2 separate regions of the Homo sapiens genome follow, and region 1 is linked to region 2. The links come from fine-mapping of genetic effects on gene expression. A gene starts in region 2. The other region holds a variant in brackets. All regions are shown on one strand. Distances are from middle to middle. Region 1 has its middle 55 kb from the start of AKR1C1. Region 2 holds the start of AKR1E2 (aldo-keto reductase family 1 member E2).

What was found. PIP is the estimated chance that this variant, and not a neighbour inherited with it, causes the effect.
Region 1: its variant is the best candidate, but not a certain one, in a credible set for the expression of AKR1E2 in skeletal muscle (GTEx, PIP 0.59).

The regions. Positions count from the first base shown.
Region 1 is chr10:4,903,505-4,913,978 of GRCh38, forward strand. It overlaps the pseudogene AKR1C6P. Among named protein-coding and RNA genes, the nearest start is that of AKR1C1, 55 kb to the right of the region's middle. The variant A/G (reference allele first, on the strand shown) is at 5,221.
Region 2 is chr10:4,821,958-4,832,185 of GRCh38, forward strand. AKR1E2 (aldo-keto reductase family 1 member E2) reads left to right here and starts at 4,250. Exons shown (of 10, transcript NM_001040177.3): 1 at 4,250-4,406; 2 at 8,718-8,885. The coding sequence starts at 4,368. RefSeq lists a silencer at 4,677-4,756.

The sequences.
Region 1 (10,474 bases), 82 kb after region 2:
TACTCCTCCTCAGCACAGACCCTTTATGGGTGGGATGTCGGGCTGGGGGACTGTCAGGTCTTTCCTTTCCCACGAGGCCATATCTCAGTCTGTCTCAGTGGGGGGAAACCTTGGACAGTACCTAGGCTTTCTTGGGCAGAGGTCCCTGCAGCCTTCTGCAGTGCATGGTGTCCCTGGTTAATCGAGAATGGAGAATGGCGATGACTTTTACCAAGCATACTGCCTGCAAACATATTGTTAACAAGGCACATCCTGCACAGCCCTAAATCCATTAAACTTTGATTCAATACAGCACATGTTTCTGTGAGCACAGGGTTGGGGCTACAGTTACAGGTTAACAGCATCTCAAAGCAGAAACAATTTTTCTTAGAACAGATCAAAATGGAGTTTGATATGTCTTCCTTTTCTACATAAACACAGTAACAATCTGATCTCTCTTTCTTTTCCCTACATAGGACCTGCTGAGAAACAATATCAATTAATCAATTATCCAAGTTCAGCAATTTCAGCTGGTCTTTTTGGGGATATTTCAATAAAGCTTTATTCATGAACACTGAAAGTTTTAATTCATGTAATTTTACATGGCATGAAATAATATAAATCTCTTACATTTTCAATCGCTAAAAAATATACAAACCATTTTTGGCTCATGGGCTATACAAAACTGGGCAGCACGTTAGGCTTGTGGGCCATAGTTCTGTATAGTTAGTGGGTATTATTATATCTGTAGTTATTTTTCTATAAATTCTTATTTTAAAATTATGATCACATACATACAATGTAATATTTATTATTGTAACTATTCATAAACATATAATCCAGTGGCATTAAATGCATTCACAATGTTGTGTGACCATCACCATTTCTATACCCAAAACATTTTTGTCATTCTTAGCAAAAACTCTGTACCTATTAAAAAATTTCCTTTTGAGTTGTTCATTGTTGGTGTATGGAAACACAACTGATTTTTTTGTGTGTTGATCTTATACTCTGCAACTCTGCAGAATTTATTTATTAACTCTAGAAGATTTCTTATGAATTATTTGAGATTTTCTACATGTAGGGTCATATCGTCTGTGAAGAGAGGATTCCTTTTACTTCTCTTTCTTGTCTGATAGCTCCAGCCAGAATATCCATTACAATGTTAAATAGTAGTGATGAAGGCAGGCATCCTTGTCTTGTTCCTCACCTTAAGGGGAACACTTCCAGTCTTTCCCCTTTGAATTTCTCACATATGGCTTTTATGTGTGTTTTTTACCTTTATTATATTAATTGTTTTATTACATTAATTGATTTTCTTCTTTGAACCATCCTTGTGTTCCTAAAGTCCCATTGGATGATGATGTATAATCCTTTTAATATGTGATGGGATTGGATTTTCTAATATTTTACTGCAGATTTTTGAATAAATATTCACAGGGAATAAAGGTCTACAGTTCTCTTGCAATAACTTTATCTGAGTTTTGTATCAGAGTAATGATAGCCTCATAGAATGAGTTTGGAAGTGTTCCTTTCTCTTCAAGTTTTTGGAAGCATTTCAGGATTGGTATTATTTCTCTTTAAATGCATGGTAGAATTCACCAGTGAAGCCATCTGGTCCAGAACTTTTCCCCACTGGGAGGTTCTGATTACTGATTAAATCTCTTTACTTGTTACAGTTCTGTTGAGATTTTCTATTTATTCTTCAATTAGTTTAAATAATTTGTGTGTTTTAGGGAATTTGTCCATTTCTTCTAGGTTACCTTATTAATTGACATGCAATTGTGATAGCATTTTCCTATAATTCTTTTTATTTTATAAGGTAACATTCTCACTTTCATTTATGATTTTAATTATTTGCATTTACTCTCTTTATATTTTTGTCAGTCTAGCTAAAGCTTTGACAATTTGCTGGTTTTTTTAAGTACAAACTTTTCTTTTCATGAATTTTCTGTATTGTTTCTCAAGTATCTTTTATTGTTTTCACTCTAATCCTTATTATTTCCTTCCATCTCCTAGCTTTGAATTTAGCTTGTTCTTTTTTTTAGCTTCTTATGATGTAAAATTAAGTTATTGATATGAGGTCTTTCTTCTTTTCAATGTACGTATTTACAACTATAAGTTTCCCTCTGAGCATTACTTTTACTGCATCTAATAAGTTTTGGAATGTTGTGATTTCATTTGTATTCCAAGTTCTTTGTAATTTCCCCTGTAATTTCTTCTTTGACCTATTGATTATTTAAGACTATTTCATCTAATTTCCATATAATAGTGAATTTTCCAGTTTTCCTTCTGTTATTGACATCTACCTTATCTCATTGTGGTTAGAGAAGGTAGTTAATATAATAGCTATCTCTTAAAATCTATTGAGATGTGTTTTGTGACCCAGCATAGGGTTTATCCTAGAGAATGTTCCATGTGCAGTTGAGAAGAATGTGTACTCTGTGCTTGTTGGGTGGAGTGTTCTTTATATATTAATTAGGTGTAGTTGGTTGGTTTATTGTATTGTTCAAGTTCTCTATTTCTTCATTTCTGTCTGGTTGCTCAATCATCTATTGATGGTGGGGTATTGAAGTCTCCAGTTATTATTGTAGAACTGTATATTTTTCCCTTCTATTTTGTCACTTTCTTGCTATATATATTTTGAGGGTTTATTATTAGATCTATAAATGTTTAGAATTATATATTCTTGCTGTAGTCTTTTATTAAAATATAATTTATTCTTTGTTTCTTGTAAATTTGATTTAAAGGCAATTCTATCTGATATTAATATAGCCAGTCCATCTCTTTTGTAGTTATTATTTCTATGGAATATCTTTCTTTATCTTTTCACCTTCAAGCTATTTGTGTCTTTAGATCTAAAATGAGTCTCTTTTTTGGCATCATATAGTTGGGGTGGTTTCAATTTTTTATCCATCCTGCCAATCTCTGTCTTTTGATTGGAGTGTGTAGTCTATTTAAAGTTAATTATTAATAAGAAAGGGCTTACATCTGCCACTTTTCTCTCTGTTTCTTATATATCTTATGCTCTCTTCTTCCTCATTTCTTTCGTCCCTATGTTCCTTTGTGTGTAGTTAATTTTTTAATGAAACATTTTGATTCCCTTCTCAATTCCTTTTGTGTAGCTTCTGTAGATACATTCTTTGTTACCATGGAAATTACATTTAGTCTCCTAAAGTTATAACAATCTAATATAAACTTATGCCAACAACTTCAAAAGCTTACAGAAGTTCTGCTCGTAACAGCTCCGTCCACTATTTTATTATAATGTAATAGATTACATCTTTATACATTGTGTGCCCAATAGCATACATTATAAGTTATTTTAACAAATTTGTATTTTAAATCTAGTAGAAAATAAAAAGAGGATGTACAAACCAAAATGAAAATAGTAGTAGCTTTTATAATTGCCCATGTATTTATGTTTACTGGAGATTTGATTTCTTCAAGTGGCTTTAAGTTACTGTCTAGCTTCTCTTATTTCAACCTGAAGGACCCTTTTTTGTATTTCTTGCAGAGCAGGTTTAGAGGTAATGAGCTCCCTCGGCTTTTGTTTATCTGGAAATATCTTAATTTCTCCCTCACTTTTGAATGGCAGTTTTGTCAGATACAGAATCCTCAGTTGACTTTTTTTTTTCTTCTAATGTACTTCTTTCAGTATTTTGAATATATCAACCTACTGCCTTCTGGCCTCCAAGGTTTCTGGTTGCTTCTGTCTTACTGCCTTTAAAGTTCTCTCTCTCTTTTTATTATTTTTAAATAATTTTATTATAATGTGTTTTGGTGTAAGTTTCTTTGAGTTTATCATAGTTGGAGTTCTTTATAATAGCCATACCCCTAGAAGGTTACAAAACTAATCTAGAAATAATCTTAAAAATTACGGTCTTTTAAAAAAGGATTAAGTGTCAGTATAGTAACATATTTTACAATCTTTGCATTTGTATGTTTTATCTGCAGCCAGTTTTATCAGCTATGAACCTGGCTTTGCAAAAATTATAACTGAGGAAACCATGACAGTGAAAGAGATCAGACCTAATTGATTCCATGTTGCTTCTAACCTTTAAGCTATCCTTGCTCATTTCTGGGCGTGCACCAAACTAACTATGGGAAGGAATTCAGTTCATGGTTTGACTCTGAAACAAAATTGATAACAGCCCTTTCCTGAAAAGACCCCCTTCTTGACTGGGGACCAGTCTGCCTTTCCAGGACTAACAAATTAGCTACAATATTAGAAGTTATGGTTTAGGGGTCATCCAGCCTCTGGCTCCAAGAGTCTGAACCTACCCAAATTGCTCCTGGGGATAACATCACTATTGTAAAAGTGAAGATCAGCACTTGAGATATTTTGCAGACTCTGTACTCCATGGATCAGCTGACACCACCCAAACCAATAATATAGCTGCTCAGCCAGTCTGCCATCCCACCCAGGGACAAAAGACAGCAAGAAGACCACCCTTCAACCCCCTATGATTCCATCTCCAACCTGACCAATCAGCAGCACTCCCCACTTCCCCAGCCTCTACCTGCTAGATTATCTTGACAAACTCTGATCTAATAATAAACAATAAAACTCCAGTCCCCCACACAGTGGGCTCTGCGGGAATTACTCTTTCTCCATTGCAATTCTCCCGTCTTGATAAATAGACTCTGTCTAGGGAGTGGGCAAGGTTAACCCACTGGGCAATTACAGGTATATAAAATTCTTAATTTCACCACAAACTGTTTAAGAAAACTTGATTTTTCAAAATTTTAATCAATGTGTAAATATTCAGAAAAAACTACTTTCTGTGTTTTAATTGGTAGGATACAGTCAATCAACTTGGTGTAAAACTAAGCAAAATTAATTGTAGATATTATTTCTCTCCAGGCACAAAAACGTGTTTTGAACCTACTCTAACCAACTGTCAAAAGGCTGTGTTAAGTGATTCTCTGACAAGGTAAGATCTAATGCTTGGTGTCTTTTTGAAGTTTTTCAAAATTGCCTCCAATATCAACCTTCCCTTCCCTTTCAGCATTCTGTTCCCTATCTTTCAGCTCATCTTTCTAGTTTTCCTATAGCAAGAAAACGTGTTCAGAGAGCAAGATAATTATATGTATTGATTCTATATGAGAAATATCACCTGTTCTGTCATTAGGGGCTTTAAATATGCCTACCTTATTAAAGAGCTACTTCTCTAGACACAACTGTGACTGAAGAATTAATTCACTCAAGATCCAATATTACCCACAGCGACTCCTTCA[A/G]TCTCAACCTCCTACTGTGTCAAAACCAAGCTTCCTTCATGAACACTTACCTATACCAAGAGTGCAGACTTTCTTTTCCCTATAGTAATTCAAACTGGGTATTGTGTTGCTTTTCCCTACCACTTTTCTCTTCTGGGACTACTTATATTTACTGTAGTGCATCTGTCTAATTTCAAATATTAAAGAGGCAGGTTCTGTAGTGACAAAGGACTATAGGGAGTTGGTTTTATCTAAACTTTAAAGTAGTGGTTTTCAAAGTTTGGTACCAGAACCTATGGGGTCCCTAGAATCCTTCTGGGGGCATGATGTAAAAATTATTCTTATGATAATACTAAGAACCTATTTCTTTTTTACTCTCATTCTTTTGTGAACGTACAGTGGAGTTTCCCAGAGGCTTATGTGGTATTGATAGATGCAGGACGCAGATAAGGTGGGGGTCGAGGGAGTCCCCAGAGAATCTCCGACCTACTCCGCAAGTGTTTACATCAGATGCTTTCGTGCAGATGAGGGAACCTGCCCAGGGTGTTGTCTGCACATGCCCACAATGGACTGGGGACCCGCCTGTGCACTGGGAGAATAAGGTGGAGCCACAGGAAGTTCATGGCCTGTGCAGCAGGAGGAGCCTGGCCTCTTCTGGTCCTGTGTGTTGGCCTGGTACTCAATCTGTGAGGTGGTAGCATGTTAGCAGGAGTCCCTCTCAATTTGCTGACAGCTTTTTTTTTCTCCTTTTTCCTATTTGCCCATACATTCTGCTCTCTTCACCCTTCAATGTGTCCACATGCCTCATTTATCCTGGTCATGACACAAGAACCGGGATTTAGCTGAACTAAGAAGCAAAAATTCTGCATCATTTTGGTGGCGTGTACAGGGACATGAGGAAGGGTGAGTAAGATGTGAACCAAAAAAATCATTTTCCCTTTTGTTTCTAAGCCTTTTTGTACTCGGACTTCTTATGAGGATAGAGGAAACTGTGTACCACCCTACCTCAATGGCCACAGGTGCTCCCTGCCCCCCTTCGCTCCTGACTGGGATGCATGGCCATAACTGCCACAGGTGCGTGTGGTGTCTAACGGCCATGCTGGGCAGAAATGAGCCACAGCCACTGCCTGGGCCCCAAAGTGGCCTCAGGGACCCAGGCCCCATGTGGCAAGCTGGCCAGTGTTCCCTGCAATGCATCTACGGAGTCTTCCCCACCCCTGGCCAAGGGGTCCAGCTCCATCAGACAGTAATTAAATTTCTCTCTCTGTTGTAGGAACCATTTGCATAATTAAAAAACATCTTCCCACCCCTGCACTTTAAGCTTTTTTTCTTTTCTCCACCAGGTCAGGAGTTAACTTTTAAGTGAGACCTTTTTTCCCCCTTTTAGAAAACGTTTTACTAGGCCAGGGCCCCAGCTGTCACTGTTTATATTCTCTGTAAAGTTTGAATTATAAAAAAGGATTTGTAAGGTTGGTCTTAAGCTGCAGCCAATCTGGTGTGCTCTGCATGTCTTTCTGTATGGTCAACAGCAAACTTTGCTGCAGGCCTCCATATTGTTTTACATCCTTGGAATTGTGACCTGTAACCACATGGTAGTGCTTTATTTTAGCTTCTGCCATTTTGCAATGGCAGCCTACGTTCAATCCTGGCTTAGGGAATGAGTCTTTTCTGGTTTGATATCTGTGTGACTTTTGCCATTTGTTGATTGTCTTCCATTCTACAAACTGCCTTGGATTTTCCTTTTCCTGAGCCTTTAGTAAAGTTTGAAAGCCAGAAATATTGGCCTCTTGGCACAGCTAAAGTGGGGTAACAGGGATATAAAGGGTTTTCTTAAAGAGCGCTCAGCTTAATTAAAAGTGAATGTCCAAGTTACAGGTATATTTAAAAGGCCTTTATGTTTTTTCTTCTTGGCTCTTGCTTTCCTGGAAAAAGGTTTTTTTCTCATTTGACTGAATTATTTTTCTCCATTTTGCCTTGCCACTCATAATATACTCATGAGTGGGGAGAGACCTCGGATTTCCTCATGCAGCCTCAGGAATTAGAGGCGGATGGAGCCCTCTCAAAATCTGTTTTGTCTTCCAGCCATACCTGTTTATTAGGCCCTAGAAACTGCATGTTTTCCTAGCCTTGCTCTTAAGGCTCCCGCTTGCAGTGCAAACCAGTAAAAGGCCTCAGGATTTTTGAGCTCTTCTTATCCCACCTTGTTTTCTTTTGATACATGTTTTCTAATAACCCAGTTTGTCTCTTCTCACCTTCAGGCCAACAAACTCCAACCAGTCATGCAACTAGAGCCCTGGACAATGCCCTCTTCTACTGGGAACCCTTAGATCAAACTCTGAGGGAGATCTGACTGCTGTTTTCCCAAAACAGTACCCCTTGTCAGCAGGACGCACTTCAGATTTGTCTTTGCCTTATCCTTATCCTTACTCTAACAGCTCCATTAGATGTATTTCTTTAGGTGGGGAATGATAGATGCAGGAGGCAGCTGAGGGAGGGTCCCTAGAGAATCTCCAAGCCACCCCACAAGTGTTTACATCAGATGCTTTTGTATAGATGAGGGAACGTGCCCAGGGTCTTGTCTGCACATGCCCACAACGGACTGGGGACTTGCCTGCCTGCTGGGAGAGTGGAGTGGAGCCATGGGAAGTTCATGCCATGTGCAAGGGGGAGGGGCCTGGCCTCTTTAGCTCCTGTGTGGTGGCCTGGTACTCAATCTGTGAGATGGTAGCCTGTTAGCAGGACCCCCCTCACTTTTTTTCTCTTTTTTCCTTTTTGTCCAAAAAATTCTGCTCTCTTCAGCCTTCAATTTGTCCATGTGCCTAAATTTTTCTGATCATAATACAAGAACCTGGATTTATCTGAGCTAAGGAGCAGAAATTCTGCATCAGTGTATGACATTGCAACAGATTAAGGCAGAAGCAGATTTGAGATTCTGGCTGTCCTCTGTGAAGCTACTCATGAGATTTTCAAAATTATAAAACCACATCATTTTTCTCTCAATGATTTTTGTTTGGTGAAATATTGTATTTTGTTATAAAATGTATTATTTATGCTAATAGGTAATAGGTTTATTTCTTAAATAAATTGATGCATAAATATTTAAAAGTTTTTTTTAGTTTAAATTTCTAATTTGGTGCCTATCAATGGATGTAGCACATGTAAACTAAAGCTTTGGGGGTCCTCAATAATTTTTAACAGTATAAAGTGTTCCTAAGACCAAAATTTTGCAAAAATATAGTTTCAAATTTATTTAAGGTACTTCAGGCTGTGGGAAAAGATATGGAAAACTCTCTATTTTATGAGGCTAGCATAACTGATAATAAACCTAAAAAATAACAAATGAAAAAATACAAGTATAGCTCAATTACACTGATGAGCCTAAATGCATAATTCTAAATAAAAATATTACTTAATAGAATCCAAGACTGTATAAAATAAAATAATATGCCAATTTGTAAGTTTTAATGTCAGTGTTATAATTATTTTTTATATCTGGAGATCTAGTAACATAATTTATGACATCAATAAATTTTAAAAGAATAAAAACATAAATTTATATCTATAGATGCTTAATGATATTTTAGGCAAATAAAACTATAACTAAAATATAAATTGAGTAATTATTTAAATGGAAATAAAAATAATTTACCAAAACACCCAGTAAATTTTCCTGTTGCAAAATATTGAATTAAAATGTACAAATAAAGAGATCACATCACCATTTTAATTTTTATTTATTTTTTTTTTTTTTGAGAAAAGGTCTCACTCTATCACCCAGACTGGAGTGCAGTGGTGCGATCATGGCTCACTGCAGCCTCAATCTCCAGGACTCAAGTGATTCTCCAACCTCAGCCTCCTCAGTAGCTGAGTCTACAGCTGCGCACCAGCACACCCAGCTAATTTTTGTATTTTTTGTAGAGACAGTGTTTCACTATGTTTTCTAGGCTGGTCTTGAATTCCTGAGCTCAAGCAATCTGCCCACCTCAGCCTCCCAAAGTGCTGAGATTGCAGGTGTAAGCCATCACGTCCAGCTTTAAAATTTTTATTGCCATTTTTGTCAAGTACCAGACACTATTAATTACAGAGCATTATTTTGTGTACCTCTAAGAAAGAAAAATGCTAATTATTATTTTAAGGTGCCATGAATTAGACATGTTAAACTGTGAAAATATATATACTTTAGAACTGGCTAACTATAGTAAAATTGTCTTGGATGCTGCAAATACAATATCAAAAGAGAACAACTGGTGAAATATTGGATATTATTATAATACAACTAGAAAATTCGAGAGATCCTAGTAAAAAAAACACTCAGTAGAATAAACTGGAAACTTCTGTAGTGACTGTATACAAAACAAATGCACAAAACTTGAGCCAAAGCATCTAGAATTGGAAATGAATAAAAGTTGCATTCACTCAGATAACAACTTCAAAATACTTAGGAATAAAGTTGACAGGATTACTAGAGATTCCACAGAATAAAACTATGTGATATCATTGAAGGCATATAATAAGGTCTGAACAAACAAAATGTAACATTTTTGGATGAGAAGACAATCTATTAAAATGTAAATCTCATAAAATAATATATATATATCCAAGAAATTCTATTTCAAATTCCAACTGACTTGTTTTTAATTGGATACAATTTCTTTAAGTGTATATAAAAATTAATGTGAGAGAGAAAATTTATGAAAAGTAGAACAGTGAGGGAAACTTGCTTTAATGGAACTCACATCATATTGCAAAGCCAATATATTCTAAGCAATAACAATAACATTGGTATAAGTTTACACAGAAATATCAGTTAACTAGACTAGGAAATTCAGAATTAGTTTTTATTTATATAAGAATTTAAGATATGATTCAAAAGGTAGTGCAATTCAGGGGAGATAATAAGTTATTTAATAAATAATGCCTGAAAAATGTTATTGACCTTACAAATAGAATTCTATACCTTCTGACATCATATATGTCCAAAAAATTCCAGCTATATGACACAAACTATAAAAAACGAGGAGGAAAAACTTACAAGGAATGTCCAACGTGCCATCTTGTGTGACAGAAGACCTTGTTTAATAAACAACAACAACAAAATCCTTGCAAGAGACAGAGATATTTCGTTATATAAAAAAATTAAACTTTTGCATGAAAATTTACTATTAACACAGTTAATAAGTAAATGGTAAATTTGGAAAACTTTTATAAATCAGGCAAACTGAGGGTGATATTAATAACCTGAGAGAGCTGTTAAAAATTGTCAAGAAAAGGACAC
Region 2 (10,228 bases):
CCCAGCGTTAACTTCCCTCATCCTTAAGAACAGGCTATCCATGGAGCTACCAAAATGCACTTTTAAAAAGTGTGTTCATGCTGCACTTCATATTCATGCTCCCTTTTCCCTTGACAATGTGTTATATGTTGAGAATCTTTAAATAAAACTGCTCAACCACCAAAAAATTATTTCTCCCCATTTCTATTCATCAGTACTTCTTATCTTGAAGGCTGATTTCAATAATCATTTATCCCTCACAACTTCATACAATTTCTTCCTTTTAGAGTCCCACTGAATATCATTTATATTTATCCCACGCTATTTTTTTATTCTAGTTTATATTATTACTTGTGAACTTTCCTAATCTCGTCTCCCAAACACACAAACCCTTTAGCTACTTCCATGGGAGGCTATCTTATCTATTACTCTCCACACCCCCAGCCACGGGATATGCAGGAGACACTAATGGATCTAGTATATCACACAGGAAGCAGATCACCAGGACGACAATTACAATCAGCAAATCCCAGTATCCACTAAAGACAGTGACAAGGGTAAAAAGACAATAGCTGAGAGCGAGGTAATAAGTGTTCATGAAGAATTTCTTAAGCCTCAGCATCTTAGCAGCTATAGCAGAATGCCATAACAAAGACAAAAGTATTTTGAGTGTGAAGTTATACCATGACATACAAATGCATCTGTCAATGAGGCCGTTAGAAATCTTCCAGACCAAAGGTCCCAAACACCCACCATAACCTTCTGATTCAATAGGGCACATATGGGGAAACTGTACTGTTAAAAAGCACTTCTACCAAGAAAAGGCAAAAAATGTCCCCTCACCACTCCTTCTCAACACTGTACTGGACATCCTAACTAATATAATAAGACAAAAAAGGAACTAAAAGGTATACAGGCTGGGTGCAGTGGCTCACGCCTGTAATCCCAGCACTTTGGGAGGCCAAGGAGGGTGGATCATGAGGTCAGGAGTTTGAGACCACCCTGACCAACAAGATGAAACCCCATCTCTACTAAAAACATAAAAATTAGCCAGGCATAGTGATGCATGCCTGTAATCCCAGCTACTCATGAGGCTGAGGCAGGAGAATCGCTAGAACCCAGGAGGCAGAGGTTGCTGTGAGCCGAGATCCCGCCACTGCACTCCAGCCTGGGTGACAGAGTGAGACTCTGTCTAAAAAAAAAAAAAAAAAAAAAAAAAAAGATATACAGTTTGGGAAGAAAAAAATTAAACTGTCTTTGTTCACAGGTGACATTATTTGCTATCTTAATTTAATTTCCAAAGAATTGATGAAAAGCTTCTGAAACTACTAAGCAATTATAGCAAGGTTGCAGAAGACAAGATTAATATACAAAAATCAACTATTTTCCTATATACCAGAATTCAACAAGTGGTATTTGAAATTAAAAGCACAGTACCATTTACATTAGCACCCCCGAAAATGAAATACTTATGTATAAATCTAACAAAATACATATGAGTCCTATATAGGAAAACTACAAAACTCTGATGAAAGATGTAAAAATAAATAAATAAATCGAGTGATATTCCATGTTCATGAATACAAGGACTCAATATTGTCAAGACATCAGCTCTCCCCAAACTGATCTAAACATTCAGTGTAATCTCATCAAAATCTTACTAAATTATTTTGTGGATAAACTGAATCCATAGTTCATATGAAGAAGCAAAAGACACAGAATAGATAACTCAATATTGAAGGAAAAGAACAAAGTTAGAGGACTCACACTACCTGACCTCAAGACTTACAATAAATCTACTGCAGTAATCAAGACAGTGTGGTATTTATGAAACAGGCAAATGGATCAATGGAACAAAATAGCACAGAAATAGATCACCACAAATATAATAAGCTGATGTTTGACAAAGGAGCAAAGGCAATACACTGGAGAACTTTCAGTCTTTTCAACAAATGATGTTGGACATCCACATGCAAAAAAATAAATCCAGACACAGATCTCACACTCTTCATTAAAATTAACTCAAAGTGGATCGAAGGCCTAAATGTAAAACACAACACTATGAAACTTCTAGAAAATAAGAGAAAATCTAGATGATCTTGGGTTTAGTGATTTTTTTTATTTTTATTTTTTATATTGATTACTGTGTTCCAGGATATTCTAATTTACTAATTTTTATTTTAATTTTTTTCTGTCTAGTCTCTGATTTTTTAATTTTAATTTTTATTTCAATTGTTTTGGGGCGACAAGTAGTGTTTGGTTGCATGGAAAAGTTATTTAGTGGTGATTTCTGATATTCTGGTGCACCCATCACCAGAGTAGTGTACATTGTGCCCAATGTGTAGTCTTTTATCTCTCACTCCCCTCCCAGCCTTCCCCCTGAGTCCCCGAAGTCCATTATATAATTCTTATGTCTTTGCAATGACTTTTAAAATACAACATCAAAGGGATGAGCCATGAAAGAAATAATTGATAAGCTCACTTCGTTAAAATAAAAATTTTTTTATTTTGCTAAAGACAATGTCAAGGAAATGAAAAGACAAGTTACAGACAGACTGGGAGAAAATATTTACAAAGACACATCTAATAAAGGACTCTTATCCAAAATACACAAAGAACTCTTAAAATCCAACAATAAGAAAATGAATGACCCAAATAAAAAATGGGCAAAAGACCTGAAAACACACCTTATCAAAGATATACAGATAGCAAAGAAGCAGAGTAAAAGATGCTCAACGTCATAGACTTATGGAATTTCTGTTAAAACAATGAAATAGCATGATACACGATTGCAGTGCAGTAGAGCTTCCCCCAGGAATACTGTTCCCAGACTTGTGCAGGGCTGGTTCCCTCACTCTTTGCCTTTCTGTTTGCAGCATAAATGCCACTTCATTGAGGTGTTGAGGATTCCCTCACTCTGTCCCTTCCGCCTCTCACCACAAGCACCTGCTTTATTTTACTATAGCACCTGCTCTTTTTTTTTCTCATGCATTTGCTTTTATGCTCTGTCCATTCATTCCTACAGATGGTGAGCTCCTGAGGGCAAGGCCCATGCAGGTCATTTTCAGCACTGCACCCTGGCCTAACTTGCCCCGTGCACAGGTGAGTGCTCCAGGCACAGTTTCTGAATGAATAAATGAGAGTATCGAAGATCCCCCTTCCCACCTGTGAGGAGCTCACATTGAGGAGATGGATGCTCACAGGAGATGCAAGTTGGGTGGGAGGCAGGGGGACACCCAGAGTGACCCTGGGAGTTTCTCTGGCTGCAGCCGCCCCATTGAGCAGAATGGGCAGCGCCTCCCCTGATGGCCAGCACTGAAGACCCAGGCAAGGAACCTAGAAACAAAGCCCTCATCTGGGTGTGGGTGTCCTCAAGGCAGTAGGACTCCCAGGGCTGAGGGGGGCAATGAAGGGGGAGCTGTAAGCTCCAGGAGAGATAAGAGGGGCGTCGGAAGGCTCCCTTGACCCCTCTTTCCCTCCACTGGCCCTGGGGGAGCCCAGTCCACTCATAAGGGGGGTGTCCAGTCCACCCCATCCACTTCCAAACGGGGGCCCGAGGCTGCAAGCAAGGACGCTCCCCTCTACATGCAGGGCTCGGCCTCCCCTGCACCACCCAGGACCCCCGCTGTCCTGCAAGCCCCAGCCGCTCTGGGCCAGGACCCAGGGAGTGGAAGGCATTTTCCAAGGGCACAGTGGCTCCCTGACGGGGAACCAAGGCCAGGCACGCTTCTCCCAGACTGGGGGCCTCGGGGCACCTGAGAATGGCCATCCTTGGTACAAGAGAGCGGGGACCCACTCCCGCGCACCCTGTGCCCCAGGGGACGCAGGACTCTGCACCCTGACCCTAGAGCTTGCCCTAGGATGGCCCGGCCATGGCGAGGCCCTGGAACGGTGAAGACTCTCTGCCCATCAACCTAGCACCTCTGCCCTACCCTCAGTCGCATATGCACCCGGTGCGAGGGAGAAGGCAACCAGGAGGTCACACCTAAGGTGGGGGCGTGAGCGGCAATGCCAGCCGATTGTAAAACCTTCCCTGCTCCTGCGTGGCTCTGCAAGCCAATCGAAAATTCCGTCGTCTATGCCGCCAGCCAATCAGGATGTCCAGAGCGCGGTGCTTCCAGCCATTTGGGACTCCAGCTGGCTCTGCGCCTCCAGCCAATCGGGGTGCCCGTCCTTAATACAACCAGCCAGTCAGTGCCCGGCGCGCGACACCAGCAGCCAGTCAGGAAGCCCTGCGTTCATGCTTCCAGCCATTGTCGGAGTGTCAGCCGTCACAAGGCACTTCCAGCCAGTCGCAACGGCGGGTCGCCAGCGCCGCAGTAGCTCGCGCGGTGCCTGTCGGTAGTCGCGTGCGGGGCGGCGGGGCGGCGGGGCGGCCGGCGGCGGCCATGGGAGATATCCCAGCCGTGGGCCTCAGCTCCTGGAAGGTGACGCGGTCGCGGGCAGGGAGGCGCGCCTGACCTAGGGGAGCGCGGGACTTGGGGGCGCCCGATGGGACCCAGGCCGGGGCTGGGGAGAAGTGCGGCGGCCTCCCCTCCGCCTGGCCGACGCCCGGGAAAGGCGCTGCTGAGGTGGCCGCCCACCGCCCACAAGCAGCCCGGCCCGGCCTTTCCTAAAACGGAGTCGGTGCTGCCCGCCGAGGCGCTCTCTGGGAGAAGCGGGAACCTCGGCAGCCAAGCCTCAGACTCTGGGGCTGCGGCCGCGGCGTTGGGCGGGGCTGCTCTGTGGAGAGGCGGAGCCCTTGAAGTTACTCAGAACTGGAGCGGGGATGCCGAGGGGAGGCCTTGGCGGCGCTGGACTCGGCCGGAACAGGGAACCTCGAAGCCTCCTCTCCAGCAAAGAGAGAAAGAAAAGTTGGGGCCGGGCGTGGGGTGCGGGCTTGTAATCCCAGCACTTTGGGAGGCCGAGGCAGTAGGATCGCCTGAGCTCAGGAGTTCAAGACCAGCCAGGTCAACATGGCGAAACCCTGTTTCTACAAAAAATGAACAAATCAGCTGGGCTTGGGGGTGCGCGCCTGTGGTCCCAGCTACTCAGGAGGCTGAGGTGGGAGGATCACTGGAGACCAGGAAGTCGATGCTGCAGTGAGCTTTGATGGCGCCACTGCACTCCAGCCTTGGGGACAGAGCCAGACCTTGCTGGAAAAAAAAAAAAAAAAAAGAAAAAAGGAAAATTGGAATTGCTGATTAGGCTTTAAAAGAAACTTTGGGATCTCATGTTGTTCCCTGTTTAGAAGCAACCTGCCCTGATGCCTGAGACATATAATCGCTCTGTGCATTTATGGGGTGCAGCGTAATGTTTTGAGCCGTGTATACAATTGCAATGTGGTTAAATCAAGCTAATTAACATATCTATCACCTCTCTCAGTTATTATTGTTTGTGGTAAGATGTTTGAAATGTCTTGTTATTTTGAAATACACATGTGTAGTAAATTATTGTTGACTGTTGGCATCCTAGTGCGCAGTAAGTCTTAAAAGCTGTGTCTCCTGTGTGTTTGAAACTTTGTACCCTTTGATCAGCAACTCCCCATTCCCTCCTTCCTCACCTCCCCCAGCCCCCAGCGTCTTATAACCACCATTCTATTCTACGACCTTTCTCTGCTTTGAACTTCACAATTCCTGCCAGTGATTTGAGACAGCACTGACTAAAAAGCGTTTAAAATTTGATCTTTAAAAAAAAAAAGCTAAACTTAGTTGTTGATAAAAGCTATAAGAAGTCATATAGGAAGTTAGTTACTGAAGGAGTCAGAATGTTCAAGGCCTGCTCATGAAAATATTATTTAAATTATTTCTCTTACCTGCTTACCAACTCTTAGAGGCTAGGAGTGTCGTTTTGTTCATATTGGTTCTCAGCATCTAGTGAAGGACGTGCATCTGTCAGCCCTTCATTCAGTAAGCACTCGATGGATTAAACTGTTGAGTCTCTTGCTTCCCTTTATTTCTGCAACAATTTGGTGCAGGAGTCCAGACTTTCGTGCACACAGGATAAGGAAAAATTAGTGAAAACTGTGCTTAACAGGTCAAAATATTCTATTTATTTTTCTTGGACTGCAGGTGCATCAAATTGGATTAATCATAATCACTCATCACTGGTCTATGCAAAGGCTTATTTTTACTCGTCTATTTTTAATAGTGAATAAACATCACAGACCTATCCGTTATCTGTTGCCCCAGAAATGCTGCATCAATGGCCAAACACCAGACCTCAGTGGTGTACAGCAGCAAGTGTATTCCTCCCACACGGGAGGTCAGGAGAGCAGCTCTGTGGACCTTGGCTGGGCTCAGTTGGGATGGTTGGGGCTACTCCACTTGGCTCCGCACATCTCCTGTCCTCGTGCGGTTAGTTAGGGAGTGTTCTCAAGATGATGGCTGAAGCACAAGAGAGCAAGGGGAGCGGTGAGATGTCTGGAGACCTCAGCCTGGGCTCTTCATTATTAGGGGCCACTTGATCCATCTGTGTGCCTGATCGGTGCTGTCTTAATTACTACAGTTCCTTGATAAGCGCCCATACCTAGTAGGGCAGGTCACCTCTCCCTGCTGTTGTAGATTTACAGTGTACAATTTGATGAGTTTTGACAGATGCATGTACCTGGGTCCTGGCTTTTTATTTTGGCACCTTACTCTCCACTGTAAGTTTTAGAACTAGCTTAGAAGGTTCCATGAGAAACTTTATTGGGGTTTTGATTGGAACTACATTAAATCTGTAGACCAGCTTGGAGATAATTGACACCTTTGTAATGTTAAATCTTAACTTTTCTACAAGCATGGTATTCTTCTCTGTTAATAAATTGTCCTGAATATGGTTCATTTCTAACATCTTTTCATATGGTTGTATAGTTTTTCCTGAAGAGAATATATGTCTTTTGTTGGAATTATTATTGGGTTCTTGATAGTGTGTTATACTACTGGAAATTATATTTCTCTGAAGTTACATTTTCTACTTGTTTCACCTGCTATATTCATTACACTTCCAGCCACTTTACTAAACTGTACTGTTATTTCTGTTAATTTGTGTTACATTTGTTTGGATTTTCTACACAAATGATCATATCATCAGCAAATAATGGTAGTTTACTTTCCTTTTTTTCCACTCTTTAAGCTTAAAATTGCTTCTTCTTAGTTGTTCAGGTGCTTCTGGAAAGCACCTCCAGCACAGTGGCCATTCTTGTTTTGTACCTGATTTTAAAGGATGTAAGATGGATATTTTTTAATATTGATACTCTTTATCAGATTAATTCTTTTCCCCGACTTACTGGGAGTTTAGATTTTGAATCTAAACTGGTATTGAATCTTAACAAATATTGATTGAGTTGACTTTTGTTTTTGTACTTTAATCTGTTAATATTGATGAATTACAGATTTTCTAATATCAAACCATCCTTAGATATCTGAGATACACTCAACATGGGTGTGGTATATTATCTTTTCATAAATATTGTTGCATCCAATTTGCTTTTATTTTACTTATGAATTTTGCAACGGTATTCATGAATAAGATGAATGTGTGACTTTTAATATTTTTGTCTGATTTTGATTCAGGGTTATGCTAGTTTTGTAGAATGAGTTGAGATAAGTCCGTCTTTTTCTGTTGTTTGAAAGTCTGTGTTAAACTGAGATGATTTTTTTCTTGAAAATTTTATGAAACTGGTGGTTTTCTCTTTTTTTTGAATTCCTTGCATTCTTTAATAATTATGTAACTATTCAAGCTTTATTCTTGGGTTAAATTTTTCTAGGAATTTTCCCATTTTATCTCATTTTTCCAAGTTATTGACATATAGTTATTGGTAATATTTTCTTTTAAGTCCATTTTATCTGCATGTTTTACTGTCCATTCGTGTCAGTTTTTTAAAAAGTTGGCCTCTTCATCAACCTAGCCAGAAGTCTGTTTATTTTACTGAAGTTTTTCAAAGAACTGACTTCTGGTTTTGTTGATCTTCTCTGTTACATCTTTGTTTTCTATTTTATTGATGTTATTCTTAATCATATTTTTATCTTTCCATCCAATTTCTTGGGTTCTTTTTCTAACTTAAGATGGATACTTGGTTCATTAGCTTTCAACCACTCTGAATCTGTTGCCTATAAAATGAAGATAATTATGCTGCTCTAACTCCTAGGGTTACCGTGAAGCTCCAGTGAGAAAGTGGTTTGTGAACTATAAAGCCCTTGTCAGTCTTCAGTTTAATGAGACTGCAAACCCGCCCACCCCCATAGTCTTCCCTAGTTCTAGTCCCTTCCCTTGCCTGAGCTTCATTTAGAGTGACTGTTCTCTTTTCTGAACTACCTTATTGCTTGTAGCATTATACATTCATTTAGGTTTTGTTATATACTTCTTTTTGTATGGATACCTTCGTGTGAGTCTACACCTCAGCCTTTATTATTGGACGCTGTGGTATCTGAGTATACAGGATAAATCTTAAGCCTCTTTGCATCTCAGTTATTATTCATTCTGTACTTTTTTATTGCTTTGATCATTCAGGAAGCATACCATCTAGCTCAGTTTTCTGCAGACACTAAAAATAACCTATAGTTTTTTTTTCCCAAAATATGTAAAGGAGTTGGAACTTAGATTATTCATAAATTCCTTCATAACTGATATTGCCTGTTTTTAGACTGATTATACTAGTACCAAATTAGTGACTTAATTTTTTATGTATTATGTTGTCCACATGCTTGGGTGAAAGGGGAGATTTGTGTTGGATTCCTCTGACTGTGAGAAGACACTTTGTTTTGTTGGTTTTGCAGGCTTCTCCAGGGAAAGTGACCGAGGCAGTGAAAGAGGCCATTGACGCAGGGTACCGGCACTTCGACTGTGCTTACTTTTACCACAATGAGAGGGAGGTTGGAGCAGGGATCCGTTGCAAGATCAAGGAAGGCGCTGTAAGACGGGAGGATCTGTTCATTGCCACTAAGGTAGGGCTTCTCTATGCAAGGCTGGCAGAGCTTGGGTAATGCTACATCTCTGGAGGGCTTTCTACTTTCTTTATGGGAGTTGATGACTTTGTTTCATACTCAAATCGGAATAAACAAGAATATTCACAGCTTCATGAGCATGCTGAATTATATTGTGTGCAGGTTTGTTTCATATTATTTACTTGGTCATTCAGGTAGGAGTACACAGATATCCCCCAATTAACAATACATTATCAAAATTCAGTTAGTGATGGGCACTTTGACTACAGTGGTGAATAGGACAAAGTCCTAGCCCTCATGAAGTCTGTTTACACAGCGATTCCTAAATTCAGAATCACTGGGGTGATTGTTAAATGCAGATTCCAAATTCTACCCCACATCTGTTGAAGGAGAAACTCTGGGTGTGGAGGAAGCAGCTTGAGCACAGGCATAAGGCAGGAAGCAGCACGGCAGGTGCAGGGGTTTGTAGGAAGCTTGGTGTATTAGTCTGTTCTCATGCTGCTGTACGAACATACCTGAGACTGGGTAGTTTATAAAGAAAAAGAGGTTTAATTGACTCACAGTTTCACATAGCTGGGGAGGCCTCACAATCATGGCAAAAGGCGAAGGAGGAACAAAGGCACGTCTTACATGGTAGCAGACAAGAGAAAGTGTACAGGGGAACTGCCGTTTATAAAACCATCAGTTGTCACGAGACTTATTCACTATCACCAGAACAGCATAGGAAAAACTTGCCCCCATGATTCAGTTACCTCCCACTGGGTCCCTCCCATGACACGTAGGGATTATGGGAGCTACAATTCAAGATGAGATTTGGCTGTGGACACAACCAAACCAAATCACTTGGTCTCTCTGGACCACACAATGTCAGGTTGCAGGAGTAATGAGAAGTGAGGCTGAGTGGTGGATAGGCTAAGCCATGGAAGTTCAGCTGTGCCCTGTCAGGAGCTGTGCTTTTACCTAGAGACAGAGGAGCCCTGTTTCATTTTTAAATAGGGCAGCTTGTATCATATGTGAGTGCAACTTGTGTTGTATATAGGATATTTTAGTAGGTGAAAGAAGCTTGCATTTGAGGCAGAGGCAGGAGGCCAGGTAGGAGACATTAACAGCAGTGCAGGTGGAAGATGATGAAGGCCTGCACTGGCACAGTGGGTGAGGGAGGGAGAAGAGGAAATGGATGTGGAGGGTATTGGGAGTCAGGACCTGTGGAAGATGCAGAGTGGACTACGATAGTGGAGAATTCAAGAATTCCTTTGCTTTTGATTTGGAAGCAGAATGTAAGACCATGAGATCAGGAGTCATGGGTTCATGGTCTAGCTGCCATTCAGGAGCTGTGAGTATTA